2 linked regions of the Homo sapiens genome follow. Each later gene encodes a partner of the first gene's protein in a complex. Each region holds a gene or a part of one and is shown in the gene's direction. Other genes may lie near its edges.

What was found.
Region 2: PPFIBP1 (region 1) and ERC1 share a complex: the UniProt entries of both Homo sapiens proteins name them as parts of the cortical microtubule stabilization complex.

The regions. Positions count from the first base shown.
Region 1 is NC_000012.12:27,519,857-27,527,212, forward strand, and holds the start of PPFIBP1 (liprin-beta-1), read left to right. Parts: upstream 1-4,349; 5' UTR 4,350-4,509; intron 4,510-7,356. UniProt on the Homo sapiens protein: May regulate the disassembly of focal adhesions. Did not bind receptor-like tyrosine phosphatases type 2A.
Region 2 is NC_000012.12:1,491,207-1,496,445, forward strand, and holds the end of ERC1 (ELKS/Rab6-interacting/CAST family member 1), read left to right. Parts: 3' UTR 1-4,725; downstream 4,726-5,239. UniProt on the Homo sapiens protein: Regulatory subunit of the IKK complex. Probably recruits IkappaBalpha/NFKBIA to the complex. May be involved in the organization of the cytomatrix at the nerve terminals active zone (CAZ) which regulates neurotransmitter release.

The DNA.
Region 1 (7,356 bases):
GCCTGCTCAGATTTGGGGATGGTGTAACTAAAGAGTCAGCTTGTTCTGTTACTGCAAAGGGCAGAAGTGAGAGTGTAAATTGTGGACAATCAATGCTTCAGACACAGAAAGACAAAATAGGTTTGGAATCAAATAGACCTTGGTTTCAATCCCAGTTCTGGGGGAATCTGGAGCAATTTACTTGTATAACCCTGGAGAGTGATTCCTCATGTCAAAATGATGCTAATAACACTTACCTTACAGGATGTTTGTGAGGATTAAATGAGACACAAGACAGATGTCTTTGGGGAGAAAGTCAGTAAAGCAGGATCCAGATGGATATGAGAAAGATCCCTTTTTTTTTTTTTTTGAGATGGAGTTTTGCTCTTGTTGCCCAGGCTGGAGTGCAATGGTGCGATCTCGGCTCACCGCAACCTCAGCCTCCCAGGTTCAAGCAATTCTCCCACCTCAGCCTCCCGAGTAGCTGGGATTACAGGCATGCGCCATCACGCCTGGCGAATTTTTTTTCTATTTTTAGTAGAGACGGGGTTTCTCCATGTTGGTCAGGCTGGTCTCGAACTCCTGACCTCAGGTGATCCGCCCACCTCGGCCTCCCAAAGTGCTGGGATTACAAGCGTGAGCCACCACGCCCAACCGAGAAAGATCTTTAATGGTGGGCTGCTTGCTTATTTTGTGTGTTACTGGTTGCCAGATAAGTTCAAGCAGGGGTTGGAAGCTACCTGTAAGGAATGCTGAAGAAGGGTTTCTTGCATTTTAATAGTGGTTGCATCAAATGACTTTTAGGATCCATTTCAAGTTCTAATTGAGCAGGTGTTCTCCTGCTCTGCAGTGTCTCTTGCTCCCTACCCCGCAATAGTGATACTCTTTGGCAAAAAGTTACCAAAGGTAAGGTTAGTCATAGGAATAACTAGGCAGAAAATATCTAGACCTACAGAATAAATTAGCGTTGAAATCATAGGAATCATAAATGATCATTTGCACTAAGCCAGCCAGGAGCCGGGATAGTGAGGAGTAAGTTCTGGCTACCTGCTCATCAGGCATCCTGTCTTGCTTCTGCTGCACTATCCTGATTTTTTTGGAGTTTCCCCAAGACACCCAGAGGCCAGTGATTTCAGTATGTTTATTTAAGGGTTACACTGTCTTCAAAAAATGAAGTATCATGGTGAAGCCTAAATGTAGAGCAGATAAAAGAGCTGTAACTCTGGTTAAAGGGAGGTAGAAGGAGGCTGAAATCTCAACCATTGGTTCCTCCCTCACCCACTCTGTAACCTCTAGCTTGAATGTTACTGCTCCAGACCTGGCCCGTTTTCAGCCTTCCCTTTGAGTCTTTTGTTTTCTGGATTCTGGATGGCAGCTGTTATCACTCCAGCTGCAGAAAGGATGGGAGGCGACTTCCTGTTTTTCTATCCTGCCATCTCTGTGGGGGTGGGACATTCCCTCCCCCATCTCCTGTGGCTGGCTGTAGTTTTGGAAAAATGTGAGCCTGGCTGCAGCCGTCCTGACTAGGGCTGGAGGAATGGCTGGTAGCCACCCAGCCTCCGTTTGAAGGCATCTGGGAGCAAGGCAGGCAACAGACACTGATGGACAAGTTGTGTCCCTGACTGTGGGACAGGGAAGGGTCAGTAGTTAATTAAGAGACAGGTGAAGTAGTTGGTCCAGAAGTGATCTGAGGAAGTTAAGGGTGTTGAACGAACGGTGGGTAGGGGTGTGGGAGAACAGAAGGGCTCTGGCCCTTCTGGCATAAAAAGAGAGAAAGAGAGAGGAAAAAAAGAACAAGAAGAAACAGTTAAAGTTTTTGTCTGAGAGATTATTTGGGGATAGACTGCATTTAAAGAATGGAAGAGAATAGAAATGATACAATGATCTATTTTCTCATGCCCTATATTTTTATTGAGCCTTTTCCTTGAATTGGGTATAAGGAATATAAAGAGGTCCTATAAGCAAGATGCTTGCTCTTCAGAGTTTGGGAAGGCAGGAAAGGCATTTAACTGGACATGTATAACCACATGTTTACACATCTGTACAATCTCAATCCTTATAACAACCTTTAACATAGGTATTGTCAGCCCTATTTTAAAGAGGAGGTAACTGAGATTCGGGATGGATGTTTTAGTGACTTGCCCAAAGTTACCCAATAGCTAAGTGGCAGAGCCAGGCCAAGAACCTTGAGTCCTTTTCTCTGTCCACTGTAACACACAGCTAAGTCTTGGCAGAGGACAAGGACTTTAATTTAATTAGGCTTTGAGAGAAGGGTGGGACTTAACCCACAGAGGAGTGGGGATTTCGGTTAGGCTGAAAGGTGAGAACGAAGCAGGGATCTGTGAGTAGACCTGTTTGACTACAGAGAGGGTTTCCTGGGAGCGAAGTGGGAGATAAGCTGGGAAAGGTAAGAAGCAGGATAAGAGAGAGTTTTAAATGGCTAGATAAGAATTGCAGGGAAAGGGGGACCTGATTTAGAGGGGAAGATGTTGATGACAAAACCAAACATTTTAGAAAACTCATCGGTAGTGAGTGGTACAGAGAAATAATTAGAACTGGGGGAAACTGGAGTCAGAAATTCAAGTCAGGAGTTTGGAATACTGCAGGTCTGACAAGCAACAAGATGGTAATTATATAAAGTAGGTCTGTGAGAGCAGTGGCCCAAGCCTGTGGATTTCTTGTAGCATTCTATTGTTTGAAAAAGTATAAATTATGGACACTCAATACTTGAGATATAGAAAGAAAATCAATGGCTTTGGAGTCAAATAGACCTCGGTTTCAATCCAAGTTCTAGCTGATTTGGAGAAATTTACTTACATAACTTTGCTGAGCCTTTGATTCCTTACGTTAAAATAGGGCTAGTAACACTCAATTTACAGGATGATTGAGAAGATTAAACAAGACACAATGCTGGATTCTGTGCATCCCTCTACAATTTTTGGCAGATCGGTAAATGTATGGCATGTCATCAATCAAAAAACAATGAGGCCTGGTGTGGTGGCTCACGCCTGTAATCCCAGCAGTTTGGGAGGCCGAAGAGGGTGGATCACCTGAGGTCAGGATTTCGAGACCAGTCTGGCCAATATGGCGGAAACCCCGTCTCTACTGAAAATACAAAAATCAGCCGGGTGTGGTGGTGGGCGCCTGTAGTCTCAGCTACTCGGAGGCTGAGGCAGTAGAATCACTTGAACCCAGGAGAAGGAGGTTGCAGTGAGCCAGATCATGCCACTGCACTCCAGCCTGGGTGGCAGAGTGACCTGTTTAAAAAAAGAAGAAAAAAAAGAGAAAGTTATTAATTCACTATATTTTTAGAAGATGGTGGGTTATATGCTACCTATATCTCATACAAATAAAGCTGCTTTTCACCATTCAGGTCTGCCTGTAAGCAGCATCTGCCTTGAAAGAACCATTTTCTGAGAATCTTTTTCTTCTGTCAGCCAAGGGGATTATACCGCATGATATCTGTCAAGGATAAACGTTAGTTAATTCTTAATTGAGAGCTCAGCCACTACAATTGGTTCCATTCTACAGTAATTATTCTCATGTGGTTTGTGGAACTCAATTGTGAGGTCCCTCCTTCCTCCACCCTTTTCAGTGTGTGCATTGAAACAGCAGCCTTAAGGTCTTTAAACGGGGAAATACATTTTTCTTGCTTCAGAGATTCAATTTTACTTGCCCGAGAAGCTTGTGTGGTGTGATTTTCATCGCTAAAAGCAACAGCAGCCACATGGCTGACAACACCACCACTTAACAATTCAAAGCTCGGTCACCGTTTTCAGGAGTCTCTTCCAAATCTTTCTGAAGTGCTTTTGAAGTTCTACATTCCCCGTCTAAGGGAACACCCAGCAGTCCCAGGATAAAAGGGCAGAAGGGTGAGCTGACGTTTTCCTTTATTTGCATGGCTTAAAGCTAGCCATTTTCTACACCACGCGCCGCCGGGCTTGTACATGCCCGTGTGCCTGTGACACCGAGGCAATTGTTTCTCCTTAAAAAGGGGGTTCGCGTGGGTTAGTTTCGTTTCTGATCTGGAATCTCAGTAACTACAACAAGAAAAGTTTAAAACTCGACCCGCCAGGTTCTTCCCCATCGGATTATCTCCGTTCCTTAGAGATAGCAGGAAGGGCAGCATTTTCTTCCATCCACCCACTTCCAGCCCTAGTCTGGCTCAGCGAGGAATGCATAAAATTAGTGGACTCCTCTGAGTGACGTTCCCCGGCTCCAATCAGCGGGCGCGCAGGCGCCCCCGGCCCCGCCCCACTGCTGACTCTCTTTGGCTGATTCCTGCAGGGAGGGAGGAGAGAAGGGCGGCAGTGGGAGGGGGAGGTACCTGGAACTGGGAGTGATGTCAGCTCCCAGCTCGGTGCCTGCCCGGATTCCTGACATGGTGTAGTGCAGGCAGGGTGGGGAAAGGACGGGGAAGGACTCGTGTGCTGCGAGCTGGCGGCCGGGCCGGAGTGCTGGGGCTTTGAACTCCGAGAGGAGGTGGACCAGAACTTTTGGAACTAGTGCCGGCGGCTCTCCACCCCCCAGGTAAGGGCGTTTTGCTCCACTCCCAGACGGGAGGGAAGTGGCACCGTTGTGTGGCTGCAGCTGGCTGTTGCAGCTGCTCCTCCTCTTCCCCGGGTCGATTTCCTTGTGCAACTCACTCCTGTTTCCCAATGGGAACGGGCACTTTTTGGGGGTGGTGGGGGTGGAGGGGTAGGGCTTAACTCCTGGGGCTTGGACCGAGCTTGTACGTGAAGAATACTCCAGGATTGGACGTTTAGGTCTTGTCTGTATCCTTAGACCCCCACACCCTAGGCTCCCGGTAATACCTGAGAACCCCAACCAGAGGGGCGTGTGTGTCTCTCTGTCTGTGTGTATTGAGGCATTTAAAAATGCCACAAAAAATTATGGATCATCGACTCAAAAATTATGCTCGTTGAAAAGAAAAAAAAAGTTTTGTATTTTTTTGTCTCCTTGTGGCCTATTATATATTAAAAGAATATCAATGTTAGTCTTATATATCAATGTAAAATATCCTTTTGTGTAATCCAGTCAGGATGTGAGAAATTCACTTGGGGTGTTTATTAATTATGAGCTTGCGGGAAAACTCGTCTCTTGGGGGCACACTTCTAAAACTGCAACTAGTATTCACTCATTTTAACCGAGAAATCCCTTCAGCTGCCAGCTTTATATCTGGAGAGGTTAGGATGGCTGCTGAGAATCTTCAGATCTGTTTCCTGTGGCTGCTTGAGGGGCGAGCTGGTAGTTGTGTTTTCAGGGATCTTTTTTAGAGAAGGGAGTTTTAACAGGGAAACGCGGTGGAAGGCGTGGCATATAAACTCTTAATTATAGGGACGTGAAGTTTTCAACATGTGGGACCAAAACAAATCCTTGCTTTCAGTAAGAACTGCGGAGAGCAATAGAAAAAGAACTTGATTTCAAAGTCCAAGTTTGGTATTTTGAGAAAGCAATTGCGGGAGGAAAAAGATACTTTTAAGAAGTGAAAGAATAGAATTCTGATTTTTGTTTATTTCCTATTTCAAACCCTGTCTTTTTCCTATGTGGAGATTTTGTGTGCCCAGGTCACTAACTGGGTGTGATTGACTTTCTCGAGGGGGCGGGGAAATTGACTCCATACACCGATTCAGGACCCTCTCATCAGTGCTTTAAGGCTCTCTTTTGGAGCAGGAAGGAAAAAAAAAAAAAAAAAAAAAAAGTAAGCGCTGAGACTCCTGAGTCAAGTTTCCCCTTTCCTTCACCGAAGTTCCTCCTCAGCAGTGAGGATCCTACTGTTGCCAGGTCTGGAGGAAATGGGAGTGGACTTCATTGTGAGTCAAAATCCGTATCCCAGGCCCCTGAAGGGAAAAGGCATTTCCAGGAGATGGAGAAAGAAAGAAGCCACAACAGTAGGTCTAGTAAACCCAAGTCAGGAAAAGGGATAGAGGACTATAGATGGGGTTCTCTATCTTTCTAGCCAAATGATCATTAGGTTTCAGAACTAGAAAGAAGTGTTTGGTTGTGCTGTTGTTTATGACATACCTGGGTCTGTATTGTTGTTAGTTCCTGAAAAAATTAAATAGAGTGGATAAAATAGCAGGCTTTTTGAGAAAGGAAAATTCGCTTTATTGGAAAGACAACATTTTAATTTTGGTTTGTATTTTGGCTTAAGACACAGAAATTGCAAATGGCTCTGCAATAATGGTGAACAAGTCTTTTCTATTTATGTTCTATGGGGAGTACATAAAACATACTGTATTTTCCAGTGTACTTTTTCAGTAGGATAGAGCTGTGGAGTGGAGTTCCTGTGGGCTAATGTGAACTCACGGTAGTGTTCCTTGGCTGATAGTGTTCCAACTGCATTTGTAATACCAAAAGATGGGGCTGCAAAAGCCAGACGGTTCAGTAAAGAAGAGTATCTTTAGGATGTTATCCTTATGTGCCAAATTCAGATTTACACTTTCTTTCCAAGAAACTAGTCCTAGTTTAGGGACTTGAATATACCAAAACTCTAAATTTGATTCACAGTTTGAATAATAGCAGTAATTTTACATACTTAATTTAAACCAATATTTCTCTTTCTCAGTCCATGTTTATGAGGCAGATATGGTGTAGGAAAACACGGAATACTTAAAAGATGTTTGAGTTATTGAGAAAGGTAGGATCAGTTTTTGGTTAAATTCCTGTGACCAACAACTGTCATATTTCCAAGAGCAACTTTAAAAATTAAGGTCGGCCAGGCTTGGTGGCTCACACCTGTAATCCAAGCACTTTAGGAGGCTGAGGCACGCAGATCACCTGAGGTCAGGAGTTGGAGACCAGCCTGGCTAACATGGTGAAACCCCATTTCTACTAAAAATACAAAAAAATTGCCGGGTGTGGTGGTGGGCACCTGTAATCTCAGCTACTTGGGAGGCTGAGGCAGGAGAATCGCTTGAACCCAGGAGGCGGAGGTTGCAGTGAGCTGAGATCTCGTTATTGCACTCCAGCCTGGGCGACTAGAGCAAAACTCCATCTCAAAAATAAATAAATAAAATAAAAATTAAGGTCATCTGGCCTTAATGGATAAATGTTGATTTGAAATCCAGGACACACTGAAGTTCCAGATCAATAGTGCCTAATTTCAAGGGCATCACTGACATTTTTTTGGGAACAAGTTCACCGAGGGACAGTTAATTAACTGTTTATGTAGTCTTTTTGTAGCTCCCTGTTCCACCGTGAGATAAATCAGAACAAGGTCATTTTTCCCCTCAGTTACTGACTAGCTGACTTCTTTTAAAACCTTTCCTATTCATAAAATATTTGTATAAGTAAATTTAGATTATGTTGATAATTTGTTACATTAAAATTAACTTTTCGTTTATATCCCAAACCAGCATAATTTTCAAACTGTTA
Region 2 (5,239 bases), about 26 Mb from region 1:
CCTGCCTTGCCAGCACCCGTGTCCTGAGCTCCTGCAGCCCAGTGGCTGCTGAAGTTGTGATCCCTCACTCACCCTGCTAGCTTTGCCCTTGACTCGTCTTCTCTGAACCTCAGCCTCGTGCATTGCCTGGAACCTTCTTCTAGCATAAATGAAGGTTTTTCCTCCTACACACATTCCTTCCTCGGTTATTTCATTCAGAGAATATTTATGAAATGCCTACTGTGTGCAAGTCATCCATCCTTGAAAAGGCCACTTCTCAGTGAGGGAGAGATGTAGTGGATTCTGTGAGACATACCTGCTGGAGTTGAAGCAGTAAATAGCATGTCCTTCCCCTCCCCGATCTTAAGGTGTGTTTTCTAGAAAAGTTCCCTAATGGAATTCATGAGTTTGGGGGTCTCAGTCACCCGCTTGCCTGTAGGATTCCATTTGATGATTCTGGATTTTTGCTGTTTGTTATTGCCCTTAGAGGGGCTCTGAGTATCTACTTGTGGGTGGCCATTTCCTGACATCTGCATGTACCTCGTGGAATTCAGCCAGCTTCATGTTGCAAATCAGAAAGCTGACCCCAAGACTGCAAATCAATGAAGGTATTGGCATTGTTAAGGACGTAGCGTAGACAACAGCAGTCATAAATAATTAGGCAGGAACTTAACCCAAATCTAGTTCTTTGACCACCTCTACCACCAGAACCCAGCAGACACTCACATCTCCTGATAAGAGTTGCTGGACTCGATGTTTTTGTTTTGCATTTTCTCCTCTCCTTCCCCACTTACTCAGAGAATTTAAAGTCTGTAGAGTCAGCACAGCCCCATCAGTCCAGGAACTTCCCACCACCAGCCCTTGACTGTCCCATTAACTGACATGGTCAGATTTCCAGCTCCCCCTACTCCCTGCTGTGAAACAATCCCTCTCCCTGTGAGAGGAAACTGTGGAGCGTTTCTTATCGAAGGTTAAATGGACTCTGCTCATAAACCTCTTACTGAGATGCTTCCTGATAGCCAGGCTGGCCAGAGAGGGGTGCAGGGGTTAGATAGTAAGTGGTGGTCGTTTGTGGTCAGTTACCTCAATTCTGTTCATTGCAGTGCCCGTAAACCATGTAGAAAGCTCCCAGCACTGAAAGGCAGGAGTGTTAGCATCTCGCTTTATCCACCATAACGTAAAGAACTGCGGTGTGATAACAGCCTTCACGGGGCCACGGTGGAACCAAGACAGCAGGCGAGGCCATGCCTAAACAAGTGGTCTGGCACGGGCACTGGCCAGCTGCTCTCTCCAAGCAGGTGGCCCAGATCCCACCCACGTGGACTTTCTCATCAGGTGCAGCGCCTGCCACTCTCAGCCACTGGGTGTGTCACTCTCCTCTTCATCTCAGCATTCTCCATCACTTCCCCTCCAGAAAAACGGATGGAAGGAAGCCCTCTGTGACACTGCTTCTGAGAAGAAGCATTTCCGGGACCGATATCATCTGTCTGGTCTCTGTGAACAGCAAGGAATCTTCTTGACCGTTCTTGGGCACTGGAGGCTGGCTAGGAGTTCAGTAATAAACGTGGCCTTCGTGCTGTAGGGCAGAGTGGATGCAGTTTGTAGCTTTCAGAGTGTCTCATTGAGTCTAGATCATTGAACCAACACTTAACCAAATGTCCCACTCCCATCACACTAGGACTTGTCATTCCATGCCCCTCTCCTAGTGGTCATGGTTTCATATGGGCATACAACTGCTACTGAAGTTATATAGCCTTGAAAACTCAGTGCAGGTTGCCCTTAATTTTCCCCAAACCCCTCCATCGGCAAGTCTAGTTGCCCTTTAGCACCTAAAGATCTGCACCCCAAACCAATGTCACCATAAAGAGGGCACGAAGAAGAGTGGGTGTGATCCCAACGGGGTTTTGTAACTGAAGAAGCCCAGTGTGAGCTTCTCATCTTTTCATATACCTCTAACCCCCGGTACTCATTGAATCATTGATGAGGTATCTCAATTGAGATTTGCAAGGACTTTGATACCATTTGAAATGGAAAAATTTTGAACGGGCTTTAACATGTTTAAGAAATATGGATGGGGCCGGCCACAGTGGCTCACGCCTGTAATCCCAGAACTCTGGAAGGCTGAGGCAGGCGGATCACCTGAGATCAGGAGTTCGAGGCCAGCCTGGCCAAGATGGCAAAAACCCCGACTCTACTAAAAATACAAAATTAGCCAGGCGTGGTGGCGTACGCCTGTAATCCCAGCTACTCAGGAGGCAGGAGAATCGCTTGAGCCTGGGAGGCAGAGGCTGCGGTGAGCCGAGATCGTGTCACTGCACTCCAGCCTGGGTGACAGAGACTCCATTTAAAAAAAAAAAAAAAAAATATATATATATATATATATATATATATATGGATGGGAATCACCAAATTCATCTCAGCTCTAACCTTTTAACCTTTGTCCTTGCACTTTACAATCTAAAGATCTACCTGTGGCTCTCAGACTTCCTCACACTTGGGTTTTAGAAATAACTTGTAAAGCAGACTGGACCCAAGGCCGCCTTCAGTGTCAAGAAGGGCATTGTGACTTGCCCCTCAATTTCTGTCCATTGAAGTCTGGTTTTCCATGAGGAACTTGCGGGCTCACCCACCCCCAGAGTGAGAGAAGAGGAAGGCGAAGTCATCACAGACACGGTCTTAGCCACCTGCTGAACTAATCCCTCCGCTATTGAGGGTCAGGGTTGTGAGGCAACCATCATGTGTCACCCCAAAATATAAATGTTTCTGAGCCGCCCATCCACTGGCATTTGGATTTGCTGCCAGAGTCCTGTTCCTCCCAGAACCATCCCGCCCTCCTGTTGACCATGTTACTTGAGTGTAGGCCCGGTGTCAAGACCCTCAGAGTCTTTGAGGAAAGAGCCAAGCAGAGAAGACCGCTGCGTGGAGTGTGACACCACATGGCATTTCTCAAGCCCAGCGGACCCTGTGTCAGCAAATACCAGTAATTTAACATCTGCTCCTGGCCTCCTCTTCACCTGCCTGGGTTCGGAACTGAGGAGGAAGGATGAGAAGAGACTGCAATGCAGCAGGCACCCTCTGCAGAGTGAGGCCGCCCGTCCATCACTGCCAGCCCTGGGCTGCTCAGGAGGGGACGTGAACCACTCAAAGGAATGTCTTAAAGAGGATCTGGAGTTTCCCCCATGCAAATTAGGGAAGAATTAGGCAAGAAAAGACATACATTACAGGGAAATCCTTCTGAACAAAATGGCTGTCTTCACCTACTCTTCTTGCAAGAAAAGACATACATTACAGGGAAATCCTTCTGAACAAAATGGCTATCTTCACCTACTCTTCAGCAAAAACCGTCTCCAGACTTTTTAGTGTCAAAAATGTAACCAACTGTCTCCTGATTTTTTCCAATGTGTTTGGCAAGTGCTGTGGCCCTGTTGTAGGTACTTCTCCTGACTCTTGGGGGAGAAGTGGTTTTAGGGATTGATTTGGGGGAGCGGGTTTTTGTCCCATCCCACCTCCTCTCTTCTTTCTCTGCTTGTCGATATTGTCTGTGTGATTCAGAGAATTGGGGCAGTTACATTGTGTCTGTTGTTGAGATTATTAAAAGATTAAAACGTAGTTGTAGAAATGAAAAATTAAACAGCTGTGTTTTAAAAATGCAAACCAATATCTTGTTAATAAAGGAATTCAAGCTATGGGGCAGCCACACTCCCCTCCTCCCAGGCTGGCATAGGTGGCCCTGGGCTGGCGGCTTAGGAAGCATGGAGCACACTTAGGGTAGTGCCTGCCTGGGCAAGAGACACCTGCCGAGCAAAAGGAACGAGAATCTGGGGCTCAGAGCCTCGCAGTTGTGCCAGGATTTTCCTATACATGTTCAGGACCTCTGGGTAGAGGTTTCACAGTTTGTGACCCCATAACCACCCTCACCCGACGTGGGTTCTAGCTCAGTGTGCCTAATACTGCATGGTAACCTGGGCTTGACCCTGAAGCCCCTGCCTGGCAGGCCACAGGACCTCTCCTGCCCACTTGGTGCTATCTCTTCCAGTGACCACCCAGCACGGGTGAGCACTGGCCAGCCTGGAGCCTGCAATCCAGGTGGAACAGACTGTCCTCCATGTCAGTTCCTTCTGGCTTCAGGCCCTCAATTATTTCCCTTTGAGCTTTTTTAGACCCTAGATCTCCTAGGCCCAGGCTCTCTCTTGACCCCAGAGAAGCCACTGTCAGGAAAGGAAGTGAACCCTACTGAAGCCAGAGAATTCACCCCGGCCAAAGCAGGCCCTCTGGGTCCAGCCCCTCATTCCACACCACGCCAGTATTGCATCCATCTACTGCAGCTACACATCCTGAGGGCAGCACCACCCACTCTGGCCTGCTGGCCCATCGCAGGACTAGCCCAGGCACCTGCCGGGCATTGCAGGATATCCAGTGGGGCCTGTGACTGCTCCCTGATGCGTCAGAAGAGAAGTGTTGCACTTTAGTGGAGGAGCTGAGGAGCACCTGCCCCCTTGTAGCTTGAGTTCCTTTTGGTAACAGTAGCAGCCTCCATGGTGGTGTCTGGGATGCACGTGCACCCGCTGCCTTCAGCTGTATGTGTGTGTTCCTGCTGGAGTTGTGTTACTGACAGGATAATGACATTACAAAGAAATTGTGTTATATTCAACTTTGCCTTGATAATTATTGTAAACACTTTGTTCATTTTTTCTTTTTTATTCACAAACTAAATCCACCAGGAAATTATAAAGTTATTTAAAAACCGTGCTGTGTCCTTCTTTGAGTGTCACCCAGCTGATCATCCAGGCAAGGTGTGTCCCCAAATGCTAGAAAAGATGGACAAGGTCTGCAGTGCCCAAGAGGCCAACTCCAATGGCAGGCAGCCCGAGGGCCAGGGGTCCCAGGATTTACGGTGGGTGTGGGAGTCATCACAGCCCTGACGGGCATGAGCCTCCTTTCCCTTCCCGCCTGATCTCCGGGTTTGCAGCTTTTAAAGTCAATTCCCGGTTCCCTTTTTCCTTCTTTCTACCCTCAGCCCCGGGCCAGGTTATCCGTATCAGGTCTCACTGTTCCAGAGCTTAGAGTAGGTGCCCAGCGCTGAGGGATGGTGCTGCTGTTGTACCAAGGTAGAAGAGCCAGAAGGGCGGCCACCAAGGGAGGGCTTTGCCCAGGACTGGGACTCAAGCTTCAGCAGGGCGCGTTCTGATGCACTGACTCTGGGGCGTGCAGGCTGGGTCAACAGAAAGTGTGTGTGCCAAGAGTAAAAGGAGCCGAGAAA